7 separate regions of the Homo sapiens genome follow, and regions 1, 2, 3, 4, 6 and 7 are each reported to be linked to region 5. The links are microRNA targets in miRTarBase. Many come from high-throughput screens and were not tested one by one. Region 5 holds a microRNA gene; each other region holds the end of a gene's coding sequence.
The links. The annotated mature microRNA hsa-miR-410-3p reads AAUAUAACACAGAUGGCCUGU and lies in region 5 at 2,604-2,624, opposite strand. An mRNA with a match to its seed (bases 2 to 7 or 8) in the 3' UTR can be bound and repressed. Matches are read on the target gene's strand: a 7mer-m8 pairs with bases 2 to 8, a 7mer-A1 pairs with bases 2 to 7 and ends in A, and an 8mer does both.

Region 1 (4,068 bases), not on the chromosome of region 5:
ACATTTGTGGAGCTTGAAGTAGTAAATAGGATGTTATACAGGCCTAAAATTGTTTCTTCTCTTTTTTTTAAAGATTAGGTGGGCCTGTAAAAGATATCGGCAAAAAAAAAAAAAAAAAAAAAAAAAAAAAAATTTTGAAGAAACTTTTTAGTGGAAGAAAACCAATATTACTGGCTCTTTCCACCAAAAGGTGAATATTCAGATTAGAGAGATTTAAATTGCCTAGCAATTTAAAATGTTTAAGACACTCTCTTAAGAGATATTTTTTTCCTGATCTGAAGTTTTTATAGTCTTCCCTACCTTGACACTATATGAACGCATTTATAGACATACCTATTTGTCTGTATTAAGATTGAGAGAGAGGCAGATTATGCTGAGGATGGTGAAGTAACTGCAAAATATTGTTGCTAACATGACTGTTACATCCGAAGACAGAAGGAACCCCAAACCCACCAACACACATCCTGCTGCAAAACCAGAGGCAAAAGCTAAGTTATAAGGGGGCAGAGGGGCAGGAGCTCTGTACATATATTTTTTCCCCTGGCTGATCACTGAGGAAAAATTTTTTAAAAGTTTATCATACTCTGGCTGGTTCAAACCATATTCACATTTACCCAATTAATTTTATTTGAAACATCTATTTATATATGTACACCAAAGAAATTAAACCCTGCCATTTTCCCTTTGTGCTTAAGAAACCAGAGCCACTGTTAGGGTACTCACATGTCAAAGATATTCTTAATAGGCTTCAAAGTTGGGTGTATATAAATGTGACAGAACTGAAGGGGTTACTTTAAGAGAGGTATTAAAACTACTTGAAATTAATTCAAAGGGATCTTTTTATTTCTGTATTTAAAAATTAGATGAGAGCAAGATTACCACTTCAAAAAAAATAACGTAACTCTCAGTCTTAATTTTGTGAAAAACTTACTTTGCTATCTTGATGAGTAGAAGATGGATAAGTTTTTCTGAACTTTATCAATTTACAAACTTACATTTTAGGATATTCTGAAGAAATTAACTTTATTACCTAATTTTCAAGTCTAAAGTTTATCATATAATAGCTGTCCTTCTTATCATTATTTTTGTTTGGTCATTTCTTATCTTACCTAGCTTCTTGGTTAGTAACTTAAAGGAAAAAATTTTTACATTGGCAAATCATATTTTTTGCCCCACAATTTAGTTACAGAAATAAAAATGGCCCAAACTACATATATACGTTTCTAGTTAAACTACACAGATATATTAAATCACATAAACTTCTGGCTTGATCAGAATATGTGTTAGCAGTTAGAAATTTTAAAATATTTTAAAAATTTGCAACATTTCCATATAAACATTACCCTCCCCTTCCAGCTATAAAGTTAAAAACAAAACGCAACTGAAACCACACAATTCATCAATCACCTAATGTCCAAAATGACTCAAAGTTTCTCTGCACATCAAGAAGTGGACAATACAACAAATGCTTCAAGTACGGTTCATGCCAATCGTCATTAAGAATCATAACATTATTGAGAAAGTACACTTGTCCTCTGGGAGGACGCTTCAGAGAAATAATTTACAAGGAGCATGGCTGTATTATAATTTTTTAAAGGAAAAATAGTTTCTTTGGATAGAAAGAAACAGTGTAAAAAATCCCCTTTTTAAAATGCAGAAATAACTCCATTATCAATCTGCATTTATATAACTGCCCAAAAGAATGGGTCTGGAAAGACCATTTTCTGTACAGACACTAGTTAATCTCTGTATGAAAAGACAGCATCTGGCATGGGAACAAACAAGGGAGATACTGGTCTATTAGCACACATAGAGACTTTCTTAAGGCTGATCCAGTGACGAACCTTTGGATCCAGAAGTATTTCTTCATTTCTCTTCTTTTCGGCTGAATTTCTAGTAAAAACTTTGAAGATGAGCTGTTCTTACTTTTCATTTCTCCACTTATGGAGAAGATGGAATAATGACACCAAAAGTACTTTGGTTTTTTTCTTTTAAAAATAATTTGCTTTCTTTTGCATGCCACAGGACAGATTTCTAGTTTCAAAACAAGGGTACAACAAGAACAAAAAAATCCCCCCATCCCCAACCGTCTTTCACCAATACAAGAAATCCTTCTGGAAATATTAGCAAGCAACTAAACAGGTATTGAACCACTGAATCTACAAGTTAATACATAATCTGTTATGGCAGAATAACCAAGAATTTTTCCCCAAAGAAAGATTTTAATTTTTTCAAATATAAAAGTGTCTAAGAGAATCATATGTGAACAAACAAAAATCTCTGATTCCAGATTTTTAGGATAAAGATGAGTAACACACTGGCAGCTGAAGAAAGCTGAAACTCTGACTAATAAATAGATCCAAATTAAGAATTTCTACAACAGTTTTTTTTTTTAGAAAACAGGACCAGAATTCTTTTTTTTTAAATGATGATCCTGTGGAATGCCTTTACTTCCATATTCACCTAATATTGTAACAGTAAAACAGACACAAGAATGTTGATGACAGCTCAACAATGCTGGATTCAGGACATTTACAGGTACACTTTTGTTTAAAAGTCCTACAAGTTTATTGACTAAGGCTAGACAGCAATTCATATGATCCTATTTGGTGCATTTTCTACCATGGTCCAAGATCATTACATGGATACAGCCAAGGACTGGGCCCCAACTTTCAGGAAAAAGACCACAAAGAAGAAAATCAAGGTGGCTATTTGGTCCCCCCAGTTGATAATCTGTGTCCTGGAACTGGAAAAACAAAAGGTGGAAAATACAGACTGCAACGAGTTAAAGGACTTGGAAAAAGTTGGTGGAAAGTGGCACGGTATACGAGTAAGGTCACTGGGCTTGGGATGGCAAGGGTGCTGCATTGAAAGAGCATCCACGGGACCAAGTACTTATAATGTCTGATGGTGTCATTCCCTCAACGACTTAGAATATCTGTATGCGATAATAAATAGATCAGTTATGTAATAAGGCAGTGTGTTGAATATGCATTCGTCCTGTGGAATGAACCACCACAGAGAGATACATGATACCATACACATTCTTTGAGTTTTCTTGTGTTGTGTTTGATTTGTTTGTTTTCAAGGCTATCCAGGCTAACTCTTCCCGGGGATTTCCTTGGAGAGAAGAGTGGTCCGCTGAGGCTGGTTTGCTTTAACCTCTCCTTTATCAAGAGATGATGACTGGCTTTAAAGAAAAATAAAGCTGAAGGTTGTTTGATTTTTATTTTTTCCCTTTTGGTTGCATCATTTTGAGTGTTTTCATATAAACAACAAGAACAAAAAATCACAACCAAAAAAAAAAAAAACCAAAAAAAAAAAACACAATAGTTCTTGATGCATCCAGTTGTTATATCCTCAGGATGTTCCAGATGTTTCCAGGTAACTCTGTAGTTTACGGACTGTGGTTTTGTCCAGCGAGCAAAGATCAAAATCAAATGTTGTGTTTGTGATATGAAAGTGTCCAGTTTCTTCTATAAGGTTCACGATCTAGAGGAGTGAAGAAGAGAAAGTTTGGGCAATACGCAGCAAACATCAAAAGGCAAAGAGAGAGTAATGGAGGGGCGATCAAATATGGAATCAAGTGATAAATATTCGTATTTATAGCAACAAGGTCCCATACCATGAATAGCATTAAACTGTCTCAGTCAACTTGATAAGTCAAAGGTATATTAAGCCTTAGAAATTCCCAGTGAGAACCTGTCTTGCTTTTCATACCCTTTAAACTGATGTCTGCTTTCAAGTCATGAACAGAATATTTAACTGTGAGTGAGCAGTTAGGGGGAGATAGCATTTCAAGACTCCTTTAAAAATTAGTTACTGACTCAATAGACAGTGATTATACTTAATAGACATAAGAAAAATCCAGCCGAGAAATAACAAAACTACTTTTACTTAAGTACAAACACATACACACACACACCCCTATATAAAATCATTTTCCTTTATCATTATATAATTGTTAATAATTTGGAAAATACAGGAACTCCCAAAAAAAAAAAAAAAAAAAAAGGAAAAGAAAGAAACTGTCTACAATCCCACCCCCTTAACAGATAGTGACCAGAG
Region 2 (4,069 bases), not on the chromosome of region 5:
CCCTTCAAATATGTTTAGCACATAGCACTCAGTAAATTTTAGCCTTTTTCTCCCATTATGCCACATGCTTATGAAATCTACTAAAATTAACCAGATGTCCTTTTATATGTTTAAGATAACTGTATAACAGGCCTAAAATATTCAGGATGAAATATAGTAAACACTATTGCTGTGTTTAGGTTGTCAAAGAGATTTATAATCATACATATATTATTTTTTGAATGCTATTATTATGGTGAATCCAGGAATTATGGGCTCATTTATACAAATGTACCTACTGAAAATATTTTGTCTTGAGTATATTATAGAGGCTTAGTGATGTTCTTTTCCTACCATTAGAACCATGCTTTAGGGCATTACACTCCTTAATAATAACTGTAATTTTTATTTTAGATTAATTTCTTGGACTGGAAGAAAGATTGATCCAGTAGGTGTTGATTATATTCTTCAAAAATTGGGCTTTCATCATGCTAGGACTACTATTCCTAAATGGCTTCAAAGAGGAGTCATGGATCCACTGGACAAGGTTCTGTCAGTTCTTATCAAAAAGCTCGGTACTGCACTACAGGATGAAAAGGAAAAGAAAGGCAAAGACAAAGAAGAACACTAAAAAAGTAATTTGATCTGTGAACAAATTATGATTGTGTCTGTTTTATTACACTGGAGTGTTTTTTTAGTATAATAATTTGAAATATAACTTTAAAATAATTCTAAATTTGTGGCTATAATTAAAAGTTTGTAAGTTAACCTGTTCTAGTTCCATCATTCTGTGTACAGTGAAGTATTGCATGATAATGTAAATTTTGTGAAAAACTAGATTAAAATATATAACTGCTTGTTATGGTTTATAATTATATAATGTGCAATACAATTCCTGCATCTTTAAAATGTCTGCAGAATAACTGTGAATTTTTTTGTTATTGGATTGGCCGTAACTTTTAGAAAAAAATCTTGTTGATGATAATGTGATTTTGGGGAGGTCATTAATTGCTTTTTCTTTTTTAAATGTAGACTTATATAAATACCTGTTTGTATATAGCTTGAGTAATTGTGATATGATTGTATACCACTAAAATATTGTTAACTATTATAATAAAGTCACAGTAATGGTTTAAGTCTGTAGTAGTTTTTCAATCTTTTTCTCCTTTTTATAATTAATAGATGCCCATGCTGTGTCACAGCTGATCAGATGCTTTCATAGAAGATGATGATTTATACCTATATTAGAGTTGGGCCATAGGTTCTACCTCTGTGGATTCAATGAACTGCAGATCGAAAACAAACATTCAGGAAAAAAAAAATATTCCACCCAAGTTCCAAAAAGCAAAACTTTTGTATTTACCAAGTACATTAAGTCCACATGAATGAAGTGATGTGTAGGCATTTTATTAGGTATTGTAAATAATCTACAGATGATTTTTAAAGAGTATCCAGGAGAATGTGCGTAAGTTATATTCAAACACTACACAATTTTACATGAGGAACTTGAGCATCTACGGATGTTCTGGAACCAATCCCCCAAGAACACAGGAAGATGACTATGTTTATAAAAAATTAGGGACAGGCACACAAGAGGTATATTAATAATACCTACGAGAAATATTAGGTATTGTTCTTTCTTAAGCTAATGGGAAATTCACAGCAAGTAATTTTTATTATACTATATTCCTTACGTGTTTGTATTTTTTGTGTGTATGAAGTTATATATAATGTATGTTATATATTACAGATACATATGTGTATTATGTACACACATTAAGTATAAAAAATTTAAAATGGCAAGATCTAAAATAATACTCAAAGGTAGCTATAATTACCTCAGGTTGGAAATTAGCCAAGTCAGTATGGCCAGTTTAAAGATTGGGTAAACAGTAGAATTGAAGAGCTAGAGTTAGAAAACACCTAAAGAAAGCCTCTAGTGCAGACTCTTAGATTTAGGTAGATAAGACAGTTTTACCTCTAACAGATTAAACAACAAAAAACTCCAGAAGAGCTGGGGTACTTAGCCAAGGGTGTAGATCTAGTAAATGTTAGTAGGGGAATTAAGATTTGCTGTCTAATGTCACAAAGCAACTTAGTCACACAACCAAAACCCTAGTGTTTTAACAGTCCTAATTTTGTATTCTTTCTGCTAGGCCATCATAGCTGTCATCTATCTGATCTCTGAATCTGACCCCCAAATCTCTTAACATTGGTGCATATAAAATAACAAGTATAAACTTACCCTATTTCTGGCACTAACTGATAACGTTATAAAAAGCAAAAGGACAAATCTGTAACTACTTAAAATTTCTATGACTGTTGGACAAAGCTATGAGAAAACTAGCACATCTGTGCACTACTGATGAGAATGTAAATTGGTACAACTCCCATGAAGGACAATTAAGTAACAGCTGTCAAAATAATAAAGGCATATAATTTTTACTGGACATACATACAATACTTCCCTGTGTGAAATAATTATACAAGCATGTATATTTGCGGTATTCTGCAACAGTGCAGTATTGTGGAAGTATGTTGCAGTATTCTTTGTAATAAATGGCTGGAAACAATTCAAATGTTCATCAGTGTAAGACAGGTTAATTAAAAGTGACATCCATTCAGTAGCATAGTATGCAACCATGAAAAAAAAGATGATCTCTAAGATTTATTCCTAAATTAAAAAACATGGTCAGCCGCTTAGATTACAAAGCTTCCAAGTGGTCTATTATAGTTATTTTTTGAGTATCACGTACCTTGTTCTATTCCAGTAAATCACACGGTGCATCCAGATAACTTGTAAAATTTCAATAACATGTAAAAAAAAATTACATAAAGGATTTTGCTTTCCTATCGGCAAATATTGTACTTCTAGGCTTACTAGAGATCTGTGATTTGCAAACTGTCTATAGTGAAGAACCCTTTTTTAGAAAAAGTTGAACATGATATAAATCAATAATCTTGTAAAATATAGTAACAATTATTCAAAATGAAAAAAATTAAAATACACAAAGCTCAAATTTTTAATTATTAGGTTTGATTTACTAGATTCAAATGTTCCATCAATTGCTGTAAGAATTTCTAGGGTATTTCTGGCAACATAGCCCAATAGGAACAGCTCCAGTCTGCAGCTCCCAGCGAGACTGACACAGAAGAGGGTGACTTCTGCATTTCCAACTGAGGTACCTGGTTCATCTCATTGGGAATGGTTGGACAGTGGGTACAGCCCACGGAGGGCAAACCGAAGCAGGGTCGGGAGTCGCCTCACCCGGGAAGCGCAAGGGTTGAGGGGATTTCCCGTTCCTAGCCAAGGGAAGCTGCGAGTGACTGTACTTGGGGGAATGGTACACTCCTGCCCCAATACTGCACTTTTTCCACAGTCTTCGCAACCGGAAGACCAGGAGATTCCCTCTGGTGCCTGGCTCGGTGAGTCCCATGCCCACAGAGGCCAGCAAGCTAAGATCCATTGGCTTGAAATTCTCAATTCTAGCATAGCAGTCTGAGATCGACCGGGGATGCTACAGCTTGGTGGGGGGAGGGGCTCGGCCATTGCTGAGGCTTGAGTAGGCAGTTTTATGCTGACAGTGTAAACAAAGCCTCCAGGAAGTATGAACTGGGCGGAGCCCACCGCAGCTCAGCAAGGCTGCCTCTCTAGATTCTACCTCTGTGGGCAGGACATCTCTGAACAAAAGGCAGCAGCCCCAGTCGGGGACTTATAGATAAATCCCCCATCTCCCTGGGACAGAGCACTCAGGGGAAGGGGCAGCTGTGGGCACACCTTCAACAGACTTTAAATGTCCCTGCCTGACAGCTCTGAAGAGAGTAGCGGTTCTCCCAGCACAGCGTTCGAGCTCTGATAACGGACAGACTGCCTCCTTAAGTGGGTCCCTGACCCCCGTGTAGCCTGACTGGGAGACACCTCCCAGTAGGGGCTGACAGACACCTTATACAGGAGAGCTCCGGCTGGCATCTGGCGGGTGCCCCCCTAGGATGAACGTTCTAGAGGAAGGATCAGGCAGCAATATGTGCTGTTCTGCAGCCTCCACTGGTGATACACAGGCAAACAGGGTCTGGGTGGACCTCCAGCAAA
Region 3 (4,064 bases), not on the chromosome of region 5:
CACAACAATTGAAGAAATTTAGGATGTGTATCAGCTAACTGCAATATTCAGTACCTTACTTGGTTCCTGATTCCAAAAAACTGCAAAAATTTTTGACATCTATAGACAACACATTATATTAAGGAATTGTCCATTTTCTTAGGTGTAAAAATGGTATTCAGATTACACATATTTTTTAAAGTCCTGAAATATTTACAGATAAATGATAAGATTTGCTTCAAAATAATACAGAAAGGGCAGAAGCAGGTGGGGTTACAGATGACACAAATTAGCTAGGAGCTGATAATTGTCGAAGGTGGAGGATGGGTTACCTAGGTGTTCTTTATTCTCTCTTTCTCTCTCTCTCTCTCTCTCTCTCTCTCTCTCTCTCTCTATATATATATATATATATATATAAAATAGTGTATATACATAATAGTATATTTTTGAGATTTTTCATTCTAAAATTTTTTAAAAACTCAAACTAGAATAAATTAAAAGACTGACTTAAGCAGAATTAATCTAAAAAAAGAGAAAGTATATAGTACTTTTACTTAAAGGGCAGTATTGAAATACATAAAATAAGTATAAATAGTCTGAAAAAAACCTACTCCATCCTAGTTTGTGGCAAAATGCTTTTGTTTTAGAAGGGGGATCTAGAAGCTCTATCAATTGTCTGATGTAATTTTAAGTAACTGGCCCCATTGGAGAGAATGACTTACCTGGGAAGAGAAAGGCCCAGTCTGGTCAAGGACATATGAATATCTACACACATTTGCTTTCCAATTTCCAAACTAGCTTAGCTTTTAGAATGTAACCTGTTAATAAACTCAGGTTTACTGTCATTTTTAAAAGTTTACTACTTTAGCATATTATGATTGCAACCTGAGTAGACTAATGCAGATATTAGTAATGGCTGTTTTTCTTCCCTAGACAGGAGACAATCCATCTTACATAGGGAAAATAACCAAATTATGTGTTATGAGAGATGTTCAGAGGCCTGTCTTGAAATGTCATCTCCAATGATCTGGTGATGCTGTGGACCTAGAGTGTCATCCAAATAACTAGTCTTGAAATTTCTTCAGGACAAGAAATTTTAAAAAACTAATTGTGAGGCTGCAGTAGCCCTTAATAACTCCTTGAATTTAATTCTTGTGATAGTTTTATTTCCTCTGTAATATATCTTTGTTATTGTGCTTTTAAGAATAGAGTGAATATACATAAGCAGAACATATTTGGAAAAAAATTTAAAAAAATTTTAATGAATAGGGTGAATAGATGTAATCTCTCCTTTTTAACTTCTCCCTCTTATTTATTCCTTACCATGGAAACATAATTTGTATATGAAAACCTGGTCCATAAGAAGTCTGATTAGAAAGCACCAACTTCAAAGCCTCAGGGTATGAGTGATAGAGTGTGCTATATATTCTCACTTTAAAAAGGTGATGGCAGAATTTTGAGGATGGTTTCATGTTTTATTTTAGCCATTTCATATTTGTCATTATTGTTATCATGGGCATCATTTTCTTCATTATCATTCGAATTATTATTTTGCTTAGAGTGGTCAATGATATGGAGAAAAGACCATTAAAAGTCATTACCATCCATTATCAGACATCCTTCTGATAAAACTAGTCTCAGAATAGGGACTTCTGTTCCCTTTCATCTGCTTTTATTGAGCTCCTGCTGTGTTTCCACCCACGTTGACTACTTTGTAATAAGGAGAACAAAAAAAAAGACAAAGTCCAACTTTAGAGAGCTCACACACTCTAGTTGAGGAGATGGGATGAGAAGAGAATCACCACATACCCATGAGGAGGCTGTAATATAGAGCTTGACAGCCTGGACTATTAGGCTTTACACTGGTTGAATTCAAATCCTGACTGCCACTCAATAGCTCTGTGATGCAGAGCAAGTTACTAACCTCCCCTGCCCCAGTTTCCTCATCTGTTAAATGAAGGTAAGAACAGTAATTACCTTGTAGGGCTGTCTTGGGATAATCCTTAAATTAGATAATCCATAAAACACTCAAATTTATCCATATATTCATCCATATATTTTATTTCTCTGTTGACCATTGTTTCTTGTATGCCATACCTTCACCTTGGGCAGATCCTCTTTTTTGTCCTTGGAATATAACCTTTAATAATTCAACTCTCTTAGTTTTGTATGTCTAAACATGTCTTTATTTTGCCTCCAATATTGTACATAAAATTCTAAGTTGATACTTATTTTCCTCAGCACTTTGAAGATACTTTTCTACTGTCTTCTGGACTTTATGGTGCTGATAAGAAAGAAGTTTGCTGTTGGTTTAACAATGATTACCTTGAAAATTATGTGTTTTTTCTCACTGGTAGAATACTCACATTTAAGTAGACATTTGATGAATGTGCATATTTATTGATAAGACTCCACACAGGACTCCTAATTCCATAGATTATGCGGGGAGGATCATGGTACAAACATCCTTCTCCCTTATGAAGGGGCATGGCAGAAAATGAAGGCTATTGTGACTAAAAGGAAGCTCTGCGAGATTAACAACATATAACTATAACCTTGTCTCCAAGGGAGATCTAAGAGTGCCCCCACAAGAATCTGAGAGACTGTAATAGGATATGAAGAGAACAGCTGAGGACCCTCATTTTTATTTATTTATTTATATTTAATTTTTTTTCAGACATCAGTGTTACTTGCCAAGACCCTCATTTTTAAACTCCAACGAGTTATTACGTTCCTTTCCACTCTTGCTTTCCAATTCCTACACCAAGACAACTCTGTATTTTGAGTATATGAGTCAAGTATGGCAAAAAGTACAGTACCTTAAAAACTTTTATTTTAGTCCTTCCTGGCCCATGCTAAAACTTATATCTAGAAATACGGCAAAACAAAATGAAACAGATCTCTCCTTGTACATAAAACAGCTAAAAATTTGGCCTCTTTATTGATCTTATGTCATGTATTTGGCTTGAAAAAAAAACAACAACAAAACAAACAGTTACAAGGGTTAAACAAACTAAATTTTTCTTCTAAATCTCTAAATGCTCATAGACAGCCAACTTGCAGGGCATACACAGTGCCTTGAGAGTCGGTCCCACAGAAAATACTTATGTAAATGAAACAAGAAGGATGCTATTTGTTTTTCATTACATAAACATTACCTGAACTTAACTAATCAATCCACTTATTTGATAAAAATCATCTAGGACCAAAAGCACTATCAAGTTTGCTGGCTGCCATTTTCACTCTAATCATACCCAAAAGGCTTAGAAATAATTCAAAACTAGAAAGAGGCCCAAGTAGTAAGGCTACCTATGGCTCTTGCTACAAAACAGTTGCCAGTCTGATGTGTGTGTGTCTAGAAAGAATGATAGAAAATAAAGAGTTCTTGAGTTCAAGAGAACTTCCCAGAAGGAGGTGGTGGGCCAAGAAATCCACCTGCCTGCTTGGTGGCGGCTCGTGAAGGGGCAAGGCCGAGAATCTTCTGAATGTTCTGTGAAGAAAGCACAGTAAGGATTGGGTTTTAATATCAAATATACAGAAGATGTGTTTTATGTAGCTCTCAGGCAAAGGGAACTCATACTCATATAGATTAAAGGAACCATTATGACCTGCAATAGGATGATTATCACTTTTTTTTTTTTTTGAGATGGAGTCTCGCTCTGTCACCCAGGCTGGAGTGCAGTGGAGCAATCTTGGCTCACTGCAAGCTCTGCCTCCCAGGTTCACGTCATTCTCCTGCCTCAGCCTCCCGAGTAGCTGGGACTACAGGTGCCCGCCACCACACCCGGCTAATTTTCTGTATATTTAGTAGAGACAGGGTTTCATCATGTTAGCCAGGATGGTCTCGATCTCCTGACCTCATGATCTGCCCACCTCGGCCTCCCAAAGTGCTGGGATTACAGGAGGGAGTCACCGCACCTGGCAATCACTATGTTATTTTTTAAAAAGGCCTACAATGTAATGAAAATCATAGAACAGTAAAAGCCTTCCTTACCTGATGAGACCTTGGTCTACTAATGAAAGTGGTTGATTTTTTTCGAGTAGAGAATCATAAAAGGAGATAATTTTTTTAACAAGAAGCATAT
Region 4 (4,069 bases), not on the chromosome of region 5:
TTTCCAAAGAAATTGTTTTAACCATCAAGTATTAAAATTGACCATTTTTTCTAGGAAAGTCCTGAAGGAATTTGTTTTCATTAATAGAAAAAATATATGTAATTATAACAACTGTAAATAAATGTGCTTGAAAATTTGAAGATGACTGAATAACAAATCCTTTCATATTTATATTGTCCTGAATTTTTATTTTTTTATTAGCAAAGTAAAAGAGAAATTGCAGACTCATATGATAGTCACAGATTCTTTTTTTTTTTTTTTTTGAGATGGAGTCTCACTCTGTCACCCAGGCTGGAGTGCAGTGGCATGATCTCGGCTCACTGCAAGCTCCGCCTCCTGGGTTCACGCCATTCTCCTGCCTCAGCCTCCCTAGTAGCTGGGACTACAGGCGCCCGCCACCACGCCCCGCTAATTTTTTGTATTTTTAGTAGAGACGGGTTTCATCATGTTAGCCAGGATGGTCTCGATCTCCTGACTTCGTGATCCGCCCACCTCGGTCTCCCGAAATGCTGGGATTACAGGCATGAGCAACCATGCCTGGCCAGTCACAGATTCTTAAAACAATAAAGATAAAATTAATTGATTCATGTTATACGTAGCTGTAATCATTTTTTCTTAATAGCAAAGAAATGCTACTAAAGAGAGCAGAGATTTATATAAAAATGGAAGATGTATACCTACCCACTAGTAGCTTACAATCAAATAGTATTGGGAGCACTTGAAAAAGACATGTTATTCCATATTGAAAGCAAACTTAATAAATGTTATCCCTTTAATTATATATAAATTAATTCATATATAATTTATATCATATATGGCAAATTTAGTCTATAATTATATATACTAATTCATTTATACATATAAAAAACTACATAATTAAAAATAAGTATATGCATTTTCAGTAAGAAAAAAATCATTTGAGAGGAGAAAAAATAGAGAAATACCACATAGAGTAGTACTATAAGTAAGTGAGTTTGGAATTCTTAAGTCTGTGAGTATGGACACAAAAATTACTGAAATTTTTAATCCTTTTTATTTACTGAGGATTATTTTGGAAAACAAGATGATTCCAAGTTGGCAAAAATAAGCAATGTTCCAAAATAATCAGTAGATATGATTTCACCAGAAAATTATGAATGTGATTGGATAAGTATTGGGTATACTGGATTTGGTTAGGTTATAGAAGGTCTTCATGTTCAAGCTAAAGCATGGTGACTCCATTCTAAAATGTATGCTAGAGACAATTCAGATTCATCTAAAATGTATGAGACATAAAAATGCCATAAGGAAAAATCTGTTTTTAGAAGACTCTACTGGGTTGTGACCATGACATAAGACCCTTCCTTGGTACCTAATTAGTGAACAATAACTCTCAGTCATAATAATCATATTAGGAGAACTGTGTTTTTATCCTGGCTCTGCTACTAAGTCACTCATGAGCATAAACAACTCTACTTCTCTGAATCTCAGTTTACTAACATGTGAAATGGGAAGGTTAAATTAGATAATCCCAAGGAGTCATTTCAGGTTAAAAGTTCCTGAAATTCGTGTTGATCCAGATCCCAAGGAATGATGTCAGTGCGTAAGCAGTGTTTTCATCCCAACTCCCCGACCCCACAAAGAATAAAGCTAAATCAATTGTTCACGGTCCAGGTTGGATGCAATTATTTTGATCCAGTCTTTACTTAATTTTAAAAATTACAAAACATAAAAACAAACAAAATTTTCCCTAAGTGGTTCAATGCAGAACACTTGGGAAGTTAAGCATATATATATATATATATATATATATATATATATAATATTTTACAACGCAATTACATATTGACAAATTCAATGAAAAAGTAGACCATCTAAATATTTTAAGAGATTAAACTTCACATTCTCTGCAACTAGAAAAACAATAAGCTACTGCATATCAGTACATGACATTCAAATATATTTTAAAATGTACTTCCCCCTCTTAAAATGGCAGTGAGTATACATTAGTGCAACCACAAAGCACTTGTAAACTTTTTTCTGTTCAACATCATCCATGTCCATTAGAACAAATTCTGTTTGGCTGGCTCCAAGGCCTTTCTTGGGCCTGAGCTTTTCATGTTTTTCTGTGTTAACAGTTACAGCCTTTATCCATAACCGCAGCCATCCATCCAGAAATGCCCACCGTCTGAGGTTGGGAGAGCCGGTGGTATGTAGCTGAATTTGAAGAACTCTTACCTTTCTAAAATAAGAACATGGATTTGATTCAAAGATTCGAGACATAACTGTATACCATAAACAGATTTTTACTTATCACTTTTTAGGCAAGAATTTTTGCTAAACTGAGTAAGAGTCAGGCCGCTGGCAGTTTTAGTGTGATTTGTGAGTGCTCTCTCTGCCTCTCTAGAGCCCCTAGTGTCAGGTAAGGGAGATAAGAAAGGACGCATGTCAGAGTTGGCTGACTTCATATCTATCTGCCTTGCTTTTAAAATACCAATGAAAGGCTGATGTTTAACAAAAGGTGCTTTATAAAAGGATCTATACAGCTGAGTTTTAATCAAATAAGTTGTAGTTCTTAATATATTACAACTCTTGAGAGCTAGCAACATATCTGGCTTGTAACAGACTATGTAACAAGGCAAATGCTCTTCTCTTTTTTCATCAAGATTCGGTGTGTGGCTGTCAGAGGAAGTCATTAGCATGTGCAGTGGAGTGCTAACTAATTAACACAGATCTAATGAGAGGGCACTGACAGAAAGCAGCCTCTTTTCTTGAAATTCAAACATCATCTCAACTTGATTTTTTTTATCTTTCTGACAAGAAAAAGTACACCTTCCTTCAACACTAGGGAAACTCAAAATGTTTATTCATTAATTTCCATTCACCTCCCTTTAATTTACAGTATGTACGCTTTAACAATGACAGAAAAGTGAATTATCAAACTTCATTGATAAATACTGACATAACAGGTTAAATGTATTTCTTAAGCACTATGTATGTGTTCTTCCACATTCCTATCGTCTACTTCAGATCTGAAATGCTGGCTCCCTCCTGGTACTCCTCCTCTAAGCAGGCTCTTCAGCATAGAATAGCAACTCAAAGGCCAAACCTTCTTGCCCAAGGTGAAAGTGGTCAGGCTTCGATTCTTCTTTAGAAAATGCTGTGCGGGGTCTCATTGGATGGCCTTGTGAGATCCGACCAGATCACTTTTGGACAAAAAGAGGAGTCAAAGAGAACTTGGGTTTCCAGAAAAAAATAAAGTGCTGCCCCCTATAAATCAGTCTCTGTGGAATAGGTGTCTTCCTAAAGAGGTAGAAATAATAGGGGGTATGTGTTGCAGATGCCCATATTTCAATAATACTGAACACTGTATCTTTAAGGGTTGCATCTTTAGGGGTTTAAAATGGACTGACTCCACTCATCTCTCTGATTTTTTCATAAGTAAGCCAGAACACCATTGACCAAGGGGTCTGAAAGATTAACCAAAGAAGTTAGTGCATATTTCAAAGCAATTATAAATAGTCTACATATGTGCATACATATATTTGAATGACAAAGTCATTTTGCAACCACTTAGGCTGAAAACAAATATTTTGGTATTTCACCTTTGTAAAGGACTTTATAATTTACAAAGCATTTTTTATGTCTTATATATCACAGATTTCTCTAAACAACATCTTACAATAGAAAGGAAAGATATTAATATCCCTGATTTTCAGATGAGACCACTGAAGCTTAGCAGTCAAATGCCTGTTGACATGTTGTAGAGCTAGACCACAGGCTTCTGTTTTCCATTCTCAGAGTTCTTTTTATTGAACCATTACTGGCTAAAGGGCTGGGACTCAAGATGCCTGAATTCTAGGCAGGCTTTTCTATATCTAGTTTGTATATGGAGCATAAAAATAAGTCACTTTAGAACTTGAAAGTGAGGAAGGTGAAAGATTATCCATGGAGATTTAGGTCATAAAACCAACACCTGATGTCTCACAACATTTATATAAAAATTCACATTAAATAGAAAAAAGCCCTTCCAGTTCAGAAAGGCTTGTCTTTAACTTGAATGAAGGTATGGCTACATCTAAAGGAATTA
Region 5 (4,069 bases):
GCCCTAACACCACGCTCCAGCCCGTTGCAGATGGAGTTCCCCAGAGCATTTGGCTCTCAGCGCTGGGGCGTTTGCTGGAGGGGCGGGGGCGCGATCAGTCGGCATCTGCAGGGGAACACAGGGCCTGTCACTTCCTCTGGGGCTTTGGTGCCCCCACCCCCCGACAAGTGGAAGAGAGAACCCAGACCCAACTGACTCGTGCCTCCTGCAGCTAATCTCAGCCTCATCCTGGAAGGGCAGAAAAAGCTAGAAAACCAAACAGCTTTGAACAAATGGGAAGAATTTCTAAAAATCAATTAACATATTCATGTACTCCATCACCACATCTTATTGACTGCCTGCTTTGTGCCCAGCACCTGCCTGGGAATTCATCTGATCCGGTCCCTGCCTTTGGGGACTCCATTAGTCAATCAACAAACACTCACTGTTCTGCTACTGAACACAGCAGGGGATGAGAGAGAGAGAGAGAGAGAGAGAGAGAGAGAGAGAGAGAGAGAAATTTCTGCCAATGAGAAATCTCACAGTCTAGGGCACAAAGAAGGTAGACATTAACATTAGGCAATTTCAGAGAACTGTAAGCTAGGAAGAAAACAGTAACGGGGCAACTGGTAGAATGTGATAGGGAAGAGGCAAGGGGAGCTGCTTTTATAGGGTTATCAGGGATGACCTTGCTGAACAAGAGCCATTCCATCCCCTTGGGAATTGTGAACCCCTGGGAAAGGAAAATGCAAAGGATGTGGGCCTTTAAGGAAGGAAGGGCCAGAGCCTGGACAGGAGGCAGCCGAGGGCAGAGCAGGGCGGCCCAGGACCCAGCTCCGGAAGGAGGGGCATGTGCAAGGCCAGAATGAAGGATGAAAACACGTGGGGGATAGGCTGTGGCTCCAAAAGAAGAGGGGGGCTGCCACTCTGAGGGCCTGGGGGGTCCTCGGATCATTTTGGTACCAAGCCCAAGGGAAGGGGCCTGCAGAGGTGCCCTGGGCAGCGGAGTTAAACAGCTGGACTCTGCACTTGGAAATGCTCTCCCTGGCAGAGGGAGGGGCACTGGAGGGAGACCCAAGTGCCACAGGCTGGAGGGACCTAGCCTGTGGGGCGGCCTCTCCAGCAGGGCTGTGGCCCAGGGGCTGGGGAAGAGGGGTGCTGAGGGAGAGTGGGAGCAGGCAGCCCAGAGGGATGGTGCCAGGGATCCCCACTCCCATGCTAGGCATGGAGAGGAGCGGTCCCGAGGAGGAGGACAAGGGGGAGGGCAGGCACAGGCTGTGACTTCCAAGGCAGCGACGTCTCAACTAGGGGATGACGGGAGCCCAGCTCAGGAAGATCTCCCGAGCCCAGGAGCTCACTGATCAACAATGAGTGATAAAGGACAGCCTTAGCTCATTCTTTGGGGTCACTCCTGAGGTGCTCCTTGCCTTCAGCCCTGGACCCTGGGCATGGGCAGCATGTTCTGGAGTCACTAAGTCTCCAGGTCAGCTGCAAACAGGCCTCTGGTCATCTTCCTGTAGTCTGGGCAGGCCAGGGGTGCAAATATGACATAAGCATCGGGTAGCTGAGAGCCAGCCCAGCCTGGGGGATGTGCCAACCGGAAGCAAGGGCATGGCGGGTGCTCCCGCTGACACTGGAATTGGGGATGCCATTCTGTCACACTTCCAAAGCCCCCCAGAACAGAGTGGAGCTGGAAAATTAACAGGCCAAGTGACACAGGTCCTACACAAAGTCCACAGGGTCAACCAGCGCAGAGCCAGCTGCTGCCTGGAGTTGACAGCAAAGAGGAAGGCATCCAAGGTGGGATTCGATATCGGAAAGAGGTTGACTGTATAATATTCATCATATAGAAAGTGAACACCTCACAGGCAACCTATTTCAGGTACCACTGAGCAGCACTGACTCCAGGGAGGAGGCTTCTTCCACAGGGAAGGGCCCTGCCACCCACCCGCCTCCAGGATGGAGGCCAGCACAGGGCTGCAGGTGGAAGTCAAGCGCGTGCTCGGCCACCAGCCATGCCTCTGGGGGCCCACAGGGCGCGCAACCGGACCTCCCCGACATCAGCAGGTGCAGGAATCATGCAGGTGGGATCTGATACTGAAGAGAGGCCGCTCGTGTCTTGTGTGTCATGATTTCTGTGAATGCAACACAGGCCACCTCTCCTCAGGCACCACAAGGAGCAGCACACGCACACGGCCACCCAAGGCACCAGCTCCCACCCAGGGTCTCACAGCACTGAGATGAGCAGAAGGCAGCCCAGGTGCAGGGAATGCATGCAGCCGCCCCCAACATCCTGGCGAGGGGTGGGTGGCCTTCCAGCAGGATGCCTTCCAGCGGGACTAGCTCCCCCGTGTCCTCTGCCTCGATGACACTGGCCATGAAAAACAGACTGAGCCCCGTCACCATTGCTCATCAGCTTCATGACCGCCCCCCACCACAGTGCACAACCCTAGCATCTTCCCCAAAGTCCACATGGCCCCCCGAAAGCTCTCCCAAAATGATTCAATGGCGGGGGTCAGGGGAAAGGATGACAAATGTCACACCAGCCCATGCATTCACGTACCCTGGAAAGTCCCGCCTCAGGCGTGGCGCCCGCACACCACCGGGCGGTAGCGGTACTGAAAACAGGCCATCTGTGTTATATTCGTCATTAATAAAAGCGAACTCATCACAGACAACCTCTTCTCAGGTACCCAGAGTGCCATCGGCTCAAGAACGTGGCTGCCGCGTCCCGTGGTGCCAGCGCTGCCCCCGGGAAGCAGTCCTGAGGACGGATGGGACATCAAAGGTGAGAAGACACAGAGACAGGAAAGAGACCCCTGCCCGGCCCACTCTCGGTGACCAGGCCCCACTGAGGCAGCGACTCCAAAGCACCCGTCCTGCTCCTACCCTCAAAAGGGCTTCATCTCCAACGGGTCCTCCAAGGTGAGATTTGATACTGAGAAAAGATCAACCATGTATTATTCGAAGTCAATAAAGCGAATATAACACGGTCGATCTCCCTTCAAGTACCAGGAAAGGCGCTGAGCTGAAGCGCGATCGGCTCCCCGGCCCGCAGGCCCCACAGGCTGCAGCGGATACGGACGGCTAGTGGACCAGGTGAAGTACATTAGAAACAATTACTTTCCAACTGGTCGACCATCCATCCCCGTACCCCAGAATGGTGCTGATGCCGGCGTCCTTCCCCGAGGTGCCCCAGCCTCCAAGACGGCCTCCCTGGTGGAATTTGATACCGAAAAGGGGTTCACCGAGCAACATTCGTCGTCCAGATGCAAAGTTGCTCGGGTAACCTCTCCCCGAGTACCATGGAGAGGCTCAGATGCTCGGACTAAGGTGAATGCTTGCAGGCGGCTGTGCTTGCAGAAGACCCTCCCCCAAGGGCAGCACAAGGTCTGGGCATTCAGAGCCCAGAGCCTCACACTCTCCAAGGACGTTCCCAATCACCAAGTCCAACGATTCCAACCCCTTCCAGAATGAATCTAGAGACTCTTCCCAGAAGTTGAGTGCAAGACCCAGGTAGGATCTTATACTGAAAAGACGGCAACCTTCCTTGGGCACCTTGCTAAAGATGAAAATGAAACCCTGCTCGCACCCGCTTTTCATTCCCAGACCCTGAGAGGGGGTGACCCTGTAGGGACCCCTGCACAAGCACAGAGCCTCCCTCCCAGCAGAGGATTCCTTTGGCGGGAGCTCAACGGGGCACAACGCTGACCCCAGACCTGCGGTCTCACCAGCACCATCTCCAGCCCACAGAGGCATCACCCCAGGATCCCTCAAAGAGTAACTTCACAGTTATCAACAGCTGGCTGACCATCTGATTAGCCTCATAAAGCAAGTGAGACATTCAAAATAAGGGACTGGGGGGATAAATGCAGCAGAAGAAAGCAGGTGAGTCACAGATGTCTTCTCTTCACAAGGGTCAGGGCAGCCCTGACCTCAGAACCCAACCTTCCCCAGACTCAGAGAACACCCAGAAGGTGCCTCCTGGAGCGGGCAGCCAGCAAGCATCGGGCCAGACGATGGATGCCACAAGCAGAGTCCAGATTCTGTGCCCACCACCCATTCTGTGAACTTTGGAGTGGGACCGACA
Region 6 (4,069 bases), not on the chromosome of region 5:
TTGAGCCTACGAATTAAAGGTTACAGTAAGCTGTCTTCACACCACGGCACACCAGCCTGGGTGTCAGAGTGAGACCCTGTCAAAAAGAAAGAAAGAAACAGAAAAACATTAGCATCAAGAGTTTTCTAACCCATGTTCAGCATATTACTATAACTTCTCCTATAACATTCTGACTTCCTATTTGTTTACAGGTTTTTGATGGGAGTGGATCATTTTTGTCCTACATTAACACATCTGCTGACCCACTCTATGGCCCCCAAGGCCTGGCCCTAACTTCAGATGGTCATGTTGTGGTTGCAGACTCTGGAAATCACTGTTTCAAAGTCTATCGATACTTACAGTAATGGTGGGCAGGTGGATACCCGCTTCCATGGTCTTGCACTATAAACTGGAATGGATTTCTCAATGCGGGACCAGATTATGACTAGAGTTTTTATGCCAGAAGGAATCATTGGTGAACTTTCCAAGGTTATTTCTGAATGTAACAATTTCCTTAAAAATGACTTATCCAATTTCTGTATTTCACCTTTAGGGTTAAAAAAAACTCTTCTACTGAATCTATAAAAACTGCAGTTTTACATCTGTGAACTATGGCTTAAGGGACAGGATTTATGTAGCTAAACTAATTTTGCAAATCAAACAGACACTTAAAAAACTAGCATATGTAAAGGTATTCGTTAATCCTGTGAATGGTAGCTTTTGCACAGAACTTCCAAAAGCAAAACAAAAACAAAATCTATTGTAGTTATATACTTCATTTAACCTAGGTCACAAGACCCAGGGAATCTTCTAACCTCACTTTTACAGTAGGTATTACTCTTGTGACATTTTTTTGGTTATCAACAACTAAATATAAATTACTTTGGAAAAAGTAAGGCTGTCTTGCAAAATGATCCCAGCTCTGATTAGCAGCCCTCTGGAGTTCAGAACTTAAGTATCAGTGCAAATTTCTCAACCTTTCTGGGTTAGACAAAGATCCTTTTTTGTGTGTTCTTTTCACCACCCCTTTGGCTCACCTTGTATCAGCAAACAAAGTACTTCTTCAGGGAAACCTGAAATTTCTAATGCCTTGAAAAGCATATTACAAAAGTAATGCTACCTTTTGGGAAACAAACTGCCCCGTTAACTCCAGATCATTGCACTGGAATGTAATCAAGAAAGTTAGTCATGTTTTATGTACCATGTTTTCACACGTGTCTCTTCTCTTCGACTTCCTGAAAGCGAAAGCTTTACCTCCTGCAAATGTCAGCACATGTAGTAGGACACCAGTATCCTAGGACAGAGAGCCATAAGTAGCCCTTTGGAGGACTGATGGTGTCAACCAAAGGCATGTGATTGATTAATGATTCCCCCTTAGAAAGCAAGTGTTACCAAAGTTGTGTTATCTTGAAAGCATTACAGGTAAGGGCATGTTATGGTTATTTATCATTGTTTAATGAATAGTAGAGGTGTCAAGGGACTATGTATACATGATTAGGGTAAGATAGAATGTATTATATATATATATATATACACACACACATATATATAGCTGAATCTTTGGTGTATTGAAATAGGCAGCACTCTGAAAGACAGAAGCTTCGTCCAGCCACTCTTCAGCACATTCCTTTACTAAGCAGTTTAAAGCCGTCCTAGTGGAGCAAGCCCTAAAGCAGATTTAATTTTTGCCATTTTCCAAGAATGACGGTGGTGGCTTTTAGTCAGAAAATGGCCTTCTGTGCTTTCAAAAAAAAAAACAAAAAAAAAACCACACACACACATAAAAAACCCAACAGGTCAAAATAAAAGTTGAACTTGAGTTACATTTAATTTAAATATAAATGCATTTTGAGAAATGTTAAGAACAATTTAGTCAATCGTTCATCTGTCATTGGTACTGTAAAATAAGCTGTGGTCTATTTCCACTGTTTAATTTTCTACTCAGTTCTACCAAATAGGATGTCATGTTTGACATTTTTGATAGTGACTTTGGGGTCTTCTTCACTGAAAGCACCTTAGAACTGTACTATAAGAAAACATTTCCCCTATGTATAATTATATGAATGTGATGTTTATTGCTTATTAATTTATAATTCAGTCATTCTCTATATAGGACTTCTTAAAATTTAGAAGGGAAATCTAGCTACTTCAAATTGTCTGTTAAATTTATTATGCCCAAATCAACCTCTGAAAAAAGGTTTTTCCAGGAAGATTTACATTTAGGTTTAATATTTTTTTAGTTAGGTAGAGTTTTAAAAAATACTTGAGCCTGTCCGTGATAAAGCTATAAAATTCAATAACTTTTTAGAATGTTAAATGAAGACACTGTTTCCTAACATCAGTGAGATACATCTTTGAATTTAAACATTCATATTTACTGAGTACCTACTAGGTACCAAGTACTCTTTTAGGCACTGGAAATACAGTGATGGACAAAACAGGTAAAAAATCGCTGCCCCCTCAGAGCTGACATTCTGGGGTGGGAATTTCATTTTGCCACGTACTAACGTTCTGCACAAAAGACAGGCTAGACTCTTGTCTAGATTGTTTAAAAGAAACTTTTCAAATTGGTTACATTAATTTTAGTTTATTTTCACAAGTAAAAATGGCTTTTTATTTAGATTCTTTCTGTCCCAGGCTGTTGATCTTAAAACTAGTTGATTTAAAGAGTTTTTTTGCACAACATTTCAATTATATTTGTGAACTTAGAAATTAACTTACAATCTAACCAGCCATCATATCATATCCTATCAGGCTAGATATCTCAATAGTAGACTGAATACAAAGCTAATTTTTTTTACATGTCAATATTGGCACAAACTGGAATGAAAGAATAGTTTGATTCAGACCTGCTCCACTATGTGTTGCTAAAACACATGCTATGAGCACTCCAGGAAACACTATATTTTTTCCAAAAAATATGTGATTATATATGTTAAAGTATAGATAACATTTCACACTTGGATACATATGTGCATTTACTGTATTTCTTGGTAAGCATATTTTTGGGGGAAAGTGCTGCTGATATGATACAAGTAGACAAAATTTAAATGAAATTTTGTCACATTCTATGGAAAATGGTTTCTGGTAAACTGAGAAGGATATTAAAATAAGTGGCTTTTTTCTGGGCTACCATTATTGTTTGATTTCTCTTTGTCAAGTGTATAGAACCTGTCATACATTCATGATAAGTAGCACTGAAAAATTACTCATTCAAATTTCCCCTGGGCACGTAAGGCAAAATATTGCCGGTTGGGATTTCAAGGTCAGTGACGACGCATTTCCTCCCAGTACAGACCCCCCAGCCCCCCTTGCTGGACATGGGGAGGCAGAGAGTCACTTGACCATCCAGAAATACATGACTACAAGTCCTTTATGACTGTTTGCCATTTTTTTTAATGGTACTTAGTATTTTGATCAAACTTTAGTCTCCAGAACTAAACAAGTCCCTAAGTTTCCTTATTTTAATTTACTGTGACTAGATTTGAAGCAAATAAATACTCCAGATCCATGCAGCTAGAACACACTTGCTTCCACTACTAAATATACAGGGTATGTCCTAACATGGAGTTAACTGGAATAGCAGTACACTAGCAAGTATCTGTGAATCCTTAGCACTGACGGGTTAACAGAAATGCTTTGGTAATACCTACTTAGTTAATTGGAGGAAGTAGTAAATAAACATTAGGTAATCTGCAGATTACTTCAAATGGGAAAAATCTTTTTGTAGACTCTATAGTACCCTCTCTATTCACTAGCTTCTGAAAAGGGAGGAGTATTTTTAGTTTGACAATTTAATAATTTAAAAACAAGACATCTCCAGGTAGGAAAAAATGAAAGCTATTTCATGCAAACATTATCTAATTTAGCTTAAAAGTGAAAGTGGTAATACTGTTGGTTTCTGTAAATGTTGCAGGGTTTTAAACTTTATAATTACTTTAATATTTTTGATAACTAGAAATCTAGTATTGCCATAAAGGAAACTAAGTGCCCATCAAAGATTTGTTTGGTATAAATAAAGAATTATTTGTTTTGTTTTCAATGACAGTAAGCTACAAATCATGATGCTTAAAAACTTTCTAAAGATGAA
Region 7 (4,061 bases), not on the chromosome of region 5:
GTGAACCCCCATCAACATCACAACTGTTTTGACACCAGGCTCAGATGGGGAGTTCTCGAACAGCATGGCCTCAGCAATGGAGGTTGTGTCTTGGGTAACCAGAAACCTGAAGCCCGCAGGAATCCTGGAGGGGACTGCTGGTCTGGGAAAACACCATTCAGAACTACTTAACTCTCAAGTAGCCTGACATTTCTCTTCCTGCTACCTTAGCTATAAGCTGATAATCTGAGCAGCTCTGCGGGGATACCAGGCTCCTGCTCAGCTGTGGGTGGGCAGGTGGCTGTGCTGGGTCGCCCCTGCCGCCTACAGGCAGAAAGCGGATGGTGCAAGGTTTCCTTCCAAACGGAAATCGCCCTTCACAGAGCTGAGCCTGGGAATTACCACAAAGAAACCTCACAAAGAAAAGGTGCGCAAGGCAAATGTTCAGAAAACAGACCCCTAAACCCTGAGATGGCACAAGTGAATGTGTTGGGTGGTGAACTGGCCAAATGCTTGTGCTCTGTCACCACAAACGACCCCAGTGGTCTGACATGACCTCAACGGCTTCACAGACCAGGGGTGTGCTTTCCTTCCTCGTGACAATCTCCTAATTTTGCTTTTCAGAGTGGGGGAGGGCGGGGAGAGGGGAGGTGGATGGCAGTTGTCCCTGTTGTCTAGTCTGGAGTACAGTGGTGTGATTTTAACTTACTACAGCCTTGAACTCCTGGGCACAAGCAGTCCTCCCACCACCTCAGCCCTCCAGGTGTATGCCACCACTGTAGGTTAGCATTTTTTGTAGACACGGTTGCGCTGTTTCTCAGGCTGGATCCTAGCTTTTAATGAAATCGTATGACATGTGAACTGTGCAGTTTTGCGTGTGCCACGAGGCAACTTTCTCAGCCGTGCCTTGGGCAAGTCACAGCCTTTTTGGCCTGGATGCCTTAAGGCAGCCCATCTGAAACCACTTCCCATTCCCATTTCTAGAAACCTTCAAGGGTTCCCTATGAATTGTGCACCCACATGGGTTTTCCTGGAGGATCACTAGTTCTCAGAACCATACAAGCACACAGCAAAAGCCTCTCCACACATCACCCTGAAGTGACCCAAATTCCCATTTCTCAATGTGGGACCTATGCTCTCCTGCACTCCAGCAAGATAGCTGTGGATTCCCACCTGATGCTGTTCCTCCTGCTGCCAAGTGCCTGCCTGCCTTTCCAGGTCTCAGCACACCACACAGGTCGCAGTCAGCATCTAAACCCATCCCCCCACCCCAGACCACTATGAATGCACCCTCACATACAGGTAAAGGTAGCAACTCACTAGGTGACTGACAGAAGGGGAAAGGTGACTACATCCCTGACCCAGAGTGCCTCAAATTTCCTAAGTGACTGTCAGGTGCAATTTAATGAAAAGCCTTGGAACAAATACAGCAGGTAAAACATCTACAATCATACCATCCATGAAGGCTGTATTAGAGATTGCTGGCATAAAACTAATTTGAGGGGCCTCTGAAGTGCTGACTCCAGCTCACAGATCAGTCAGCTGAGAGAGGCAGCCTAGATCACTTGGTGAGCAGCAGACCCAGCACTCAAGATTCATGCCTCTGCTGTCCATTTGACAAGGTTTAGTCTCAAGAAAATGCACCAAGGCCCCGAGGCCAACAGCCAGAGCTCCACCAATCAGGGCTGATCACACTGGTGCTCAAGCACTGCGGCCCAGGAACCTGACTGCAGGAGTGCTGGCTCTACACTAACAGAATGCTGGGCGTGTGTGGGTGGCTGCTGTGGACATTATGGGGGAGATGGGTAGGAAGGACAGATTTGGTTAGGAGCCCAGACTGAAGTTACAACTGCCAAGTTTAAATTCACTCATTTTGTGCACCGTTTCCCAAGTATGTACTGTGAAGGTAGAAGGCACTGTGGCCGCCTGTAAATAGCTGGGGAGGCAAGACACGAAGACCAGATAAATGTTAAGAAACATGCTCCCTGTATGTATTGAAATCAGTTCTGCAACCCTCATACCAGTTGGCTGTAACAGATGCTAAATGTGGTGGGTAAAATGTTTTTAGTCTCATGGTCTTACCATGAATTACTTATTAGAAAGGTAAAGGAGATTACCACCCTAAGTGCTCAGTCATCAACAAAGGAATAGACACACAACTCCTGAAGACATGTCATTGGCACCAGGGAGTGGTTTCGTGGAAGACAATTTTTCCATGGACAAGGTGGGGTGTGGAAAGGGATGGCTTCCAGATGAAACCATTCCACATCAGATCATCAGGCATTTGATTCTCCTAAGGAGCGCACAACCTAGACCTGTTGCATGCCCAGTTCACAATACTGGGTTTGCACTCCTATGAGAATCTAATGCTGCTGCTAATCTGACAGGAGGCGAACCTCAGGCGGCAATGCTGGCTCACCTCTTCCTAACAAGCCATGGACCTGAGACTGGGGACCACTGCCCTATGGTAAAGGCCCTGGCCAAAATGCAAACCTCCATCAGGTCAGGAGCAAACAGACAAACCCACATTTAGAGACCATCTAAAAAAGGCCTGGAGTACTTAAGAATGTCAAGACTAGGACAAATTTCCCCTGACCGCCCCCAGGACTCTGGGCAGAACCTGAAAACCCTGTAACCACAGCCAAACCCTAGCACCACCTGCACTCCTGGGACACACTCTGGTTGTAGTTTCCACGAAAACAGGCCGTACATTAGTAGCACGATTATTTTATTATATGCTTTATAAAAAAACAAACACCCAAAGACATACAACACACCGCCCTCACCCCCCAGCGGCCATTAGGGAGGGGGCTTATACTTTTCCTAATGTAGATCTGGCCATCTTATAAAGCAGACCACATTATTTGTTTCCATATATACCTGTAGATATTTCTCTCCCCTCAAATATTTATATCTCGACTAAAAAAAGGAGGTGCAAAGAGTATATAAAGATAAATGAGATTTTCTTGCTGTTGTTATAGTACAAACACCAGATGACTACCAGTGGAGTAACAGGGCAAAACAAAAACACAAACCCCACCTTCAGTGAGGAATGGAAGGTCTGTTACCGACCTCAAGTAGCTGAATCACCTGCTGTAACTGGCACCTCCCTGACAATCATGGGTTTGTAGGGACATGGGCCAGGTGATGGCTTCTACTTGTTTCCAGAAGGCTAATGTGTCCTACACCCTTTCTTAGTAACTAAAGACGAACTACGGGAGAACCCAGTATTTGGATTCTGCCCAGAGGTATTAAATGCACAAGGAAAAATTAGTTATGTCCAAGTAGCAAGCAATAATATTTTTAAACCAACATGGTTAAATGTTAAGATTTGTAGAAATCAAAATATTTATTCACATAATTTTAAACTAAAGTTGAAGCTAATATATCTTCCGTGGTAATGATTTAAGTGCAAGTGATGCTTGGCTTTCTTTCACATTCATTTCTTTTCTTCTGAGTGAAGGCATATCAGTTATTCTTGAACAAGTCAATACAGCTCTGCAAAAGGGAGACATTGTTCTGTGGGGAAAAAAGGCAAGGCAGACCAGTGAATTATTAAAACTTGCCATATACCTGGAATGACTCAAGTACACCAACACGGCTTTTCACGGGAGGTTTAAAGTCAGCCAGAGCAAGCTGGCCCTTCTCTTCATCAAATCCCAGGTGAACTGCAACGTACCACGCATCCCCATTTCATGTTTCAGCTCCTCTCCCTCAGTGGGTAAGGCTACCAGCCAAAGAGCCGACGTTCACTCCAGCACCTCTGCCCTCACCTGCTTGCTCCTAAATGTGATCCTGCTTACTGTAACTTCTTAAGACACTATCAGTGCGTTGTTCCATGAAGGCAAGGGCCTTGGAAAGATTGAATAAAAGTTGCTAGAAATTAGGGCTGGGAGCTTTAGCTCACACCTGTAATCCCAGCACTTTGGGAGGCCAAGGCAGGTGGATCACCTGAGGTCAGGGGTTCAAGTCCAGCCTGGCCAAAATGGTGAAACCCCATCTCTATTAAAAAAAAAAAAAAAAAGTTGCTAAAAATTAGTCATGGGTGACATTATAAACAAGACTACAAATAAACAATGAGT

Region 1: the mRNA of MLLT3 is a reported target of hsa-miR-410-3p. Seed matches in the 3' UTR shown: 8mer at 1,684-1,691 and 7mer-A1 at 762-768.
Region 2: the mRNA of BLTP1 is a reported target of hsa-miR-410-3p. Seed matches in the 3' UTR shown: 7mer-A1 at 852-858 and 7mer-A1 at 1,014-1,020.
Region 3: miRTarBase lists TMCO1 as a target of hsa-miR-410-3p. Seed matches in the 3' UTR shown: 7mer-m8 at 2,522-2,528.
Region 4: the mRNA of SLC25A27 is a reported target of hsa-miR-410-3p. Seed matches in the 3' UTR shown: 7mer-A1 at 1,796-1,802.
Region 6: the mRNA of TRIM2 is a reported target of hsa-miR-410-3p. Seed matches in the 3' UTR shown: 8mer at 745-752, 7mer-A1 at 1,494-1,500 and 7mer-A1 at 2,906-2,912.
Region 7: miRTarBase lists SNX5 as a target of hsa-miR-410-3p. Seed matches in the 3' UTR shown: 7mer-A1 at 2,922-2,928.

What each region holds. Positions count from the first base shown.
Region 1 is chr9:20,343,083-20,347,150 of GRCh38, forward strand. It overlaps MLLT3 (MLLT3 super elongation complex subunit), which reads right to left. Exons shown (of 11, transcript NM_004529.4): 11 at 1-3,492. The coding sequence ends at 3,361. LOC124902129 (a long non-coding RNA gene) reads left to right here and starts at 4,037. Exons shown (of 4, transcript XR_007061434.1): 1 at 4,037-4,068.
Region 2 is chr4:122,361,638-122,365,706 of GRCh38, forward strand. BLTP1 (bridge-like lipid transfer protein family member 1) reads left to right here. Exons shown (of 88, transcript NM_001384125.1): 88 at 394-1,115. The coding sequence ends at 610. Among named protein-coding and RNA genes, the nearest start is that of ADAD1, 15 kb to the right of the region's middle.
Region 3 is chr1:165,724,653-165,728,716 of GRCh38, forward strand. TMCO1 (transmembrane and coiled-coil domains 1) reads right to left here. Exons shown (of 7, transcript NM_019026.6): 7 at 2,143-3,469. The coding sequence ends at 3,371. Among named protein-coding and RNA genes, the nearest start is that of ALDH9A1, 28 kb to the left of the region's middle.
Region 4 is chr6:46,675,763-46,679,831 of GRCh38, reverse strand. It overlaps SLC25A27 (solute carrier family 25 member 27), which reads right to left. Exons shown (of 9, transcript NM_004277.5): 9 at 1,642-3,449. The coding sequence ends at 3,378. All of the region lies in intron 1 of TDRD6-AS1 (TDRD6 and SLC25A27 antisense RNA 1), which reads left to right. Among named protein-coding and RNA genes, the nearest start is that of TDRD6, 10 kb to the left of the region's middle.
Region 5 is chr14:101,064,516-101,068,584 of GRCh38, reverse strand. MIR410 (microRNA 410) reads right to left here and starts at 2,673; the gene lies at 2,594-2,673. It overlaps MIR541 (microRNA 541), which reads right to left; the gene lies at 4,007-4,069. MIR409 (microRNA 409) reads right to left here and starts at 3,285; the gene lies at 3,207-3,285. It overlaps MIR412 (microRNA 412), which reads right to left and starts at 3,138; the gene lies at 3,048-3,138. It also overlaps MIR369 and MIR656.
Region 6 is chr4:153,334,623-153,338,691 of GRCh38, forward strand. TRIM2 (tripartite motif containing 2) reads left to right here. Exons shown (of 12, transcript NM_015271.5): 12 at 192-4,069. The coding sequence ends at 344. Among named protein-coding and RNA genes, the nearest start is that of MND1, 8.0 kb to the right of the region's middle.
Region 7 is chr20:17,938,910-17,942,970 of GRCh38, forward strand. It overlaps SNX5 (sorting nexin 5), which reads right to left. Exons shown (of 13, transcript NM_014426.4): 13 at 2,691-3,498. The coding sequence ends at 3,448. Among named protein-coding and RNA genes, the nearest start is that of SNORD17, 22 kb to the right of the region's middle. RefSeq lists enhancers at 1-396, 29-158, 1,399-1,488, 1,519-1,608, 1,584-2,175.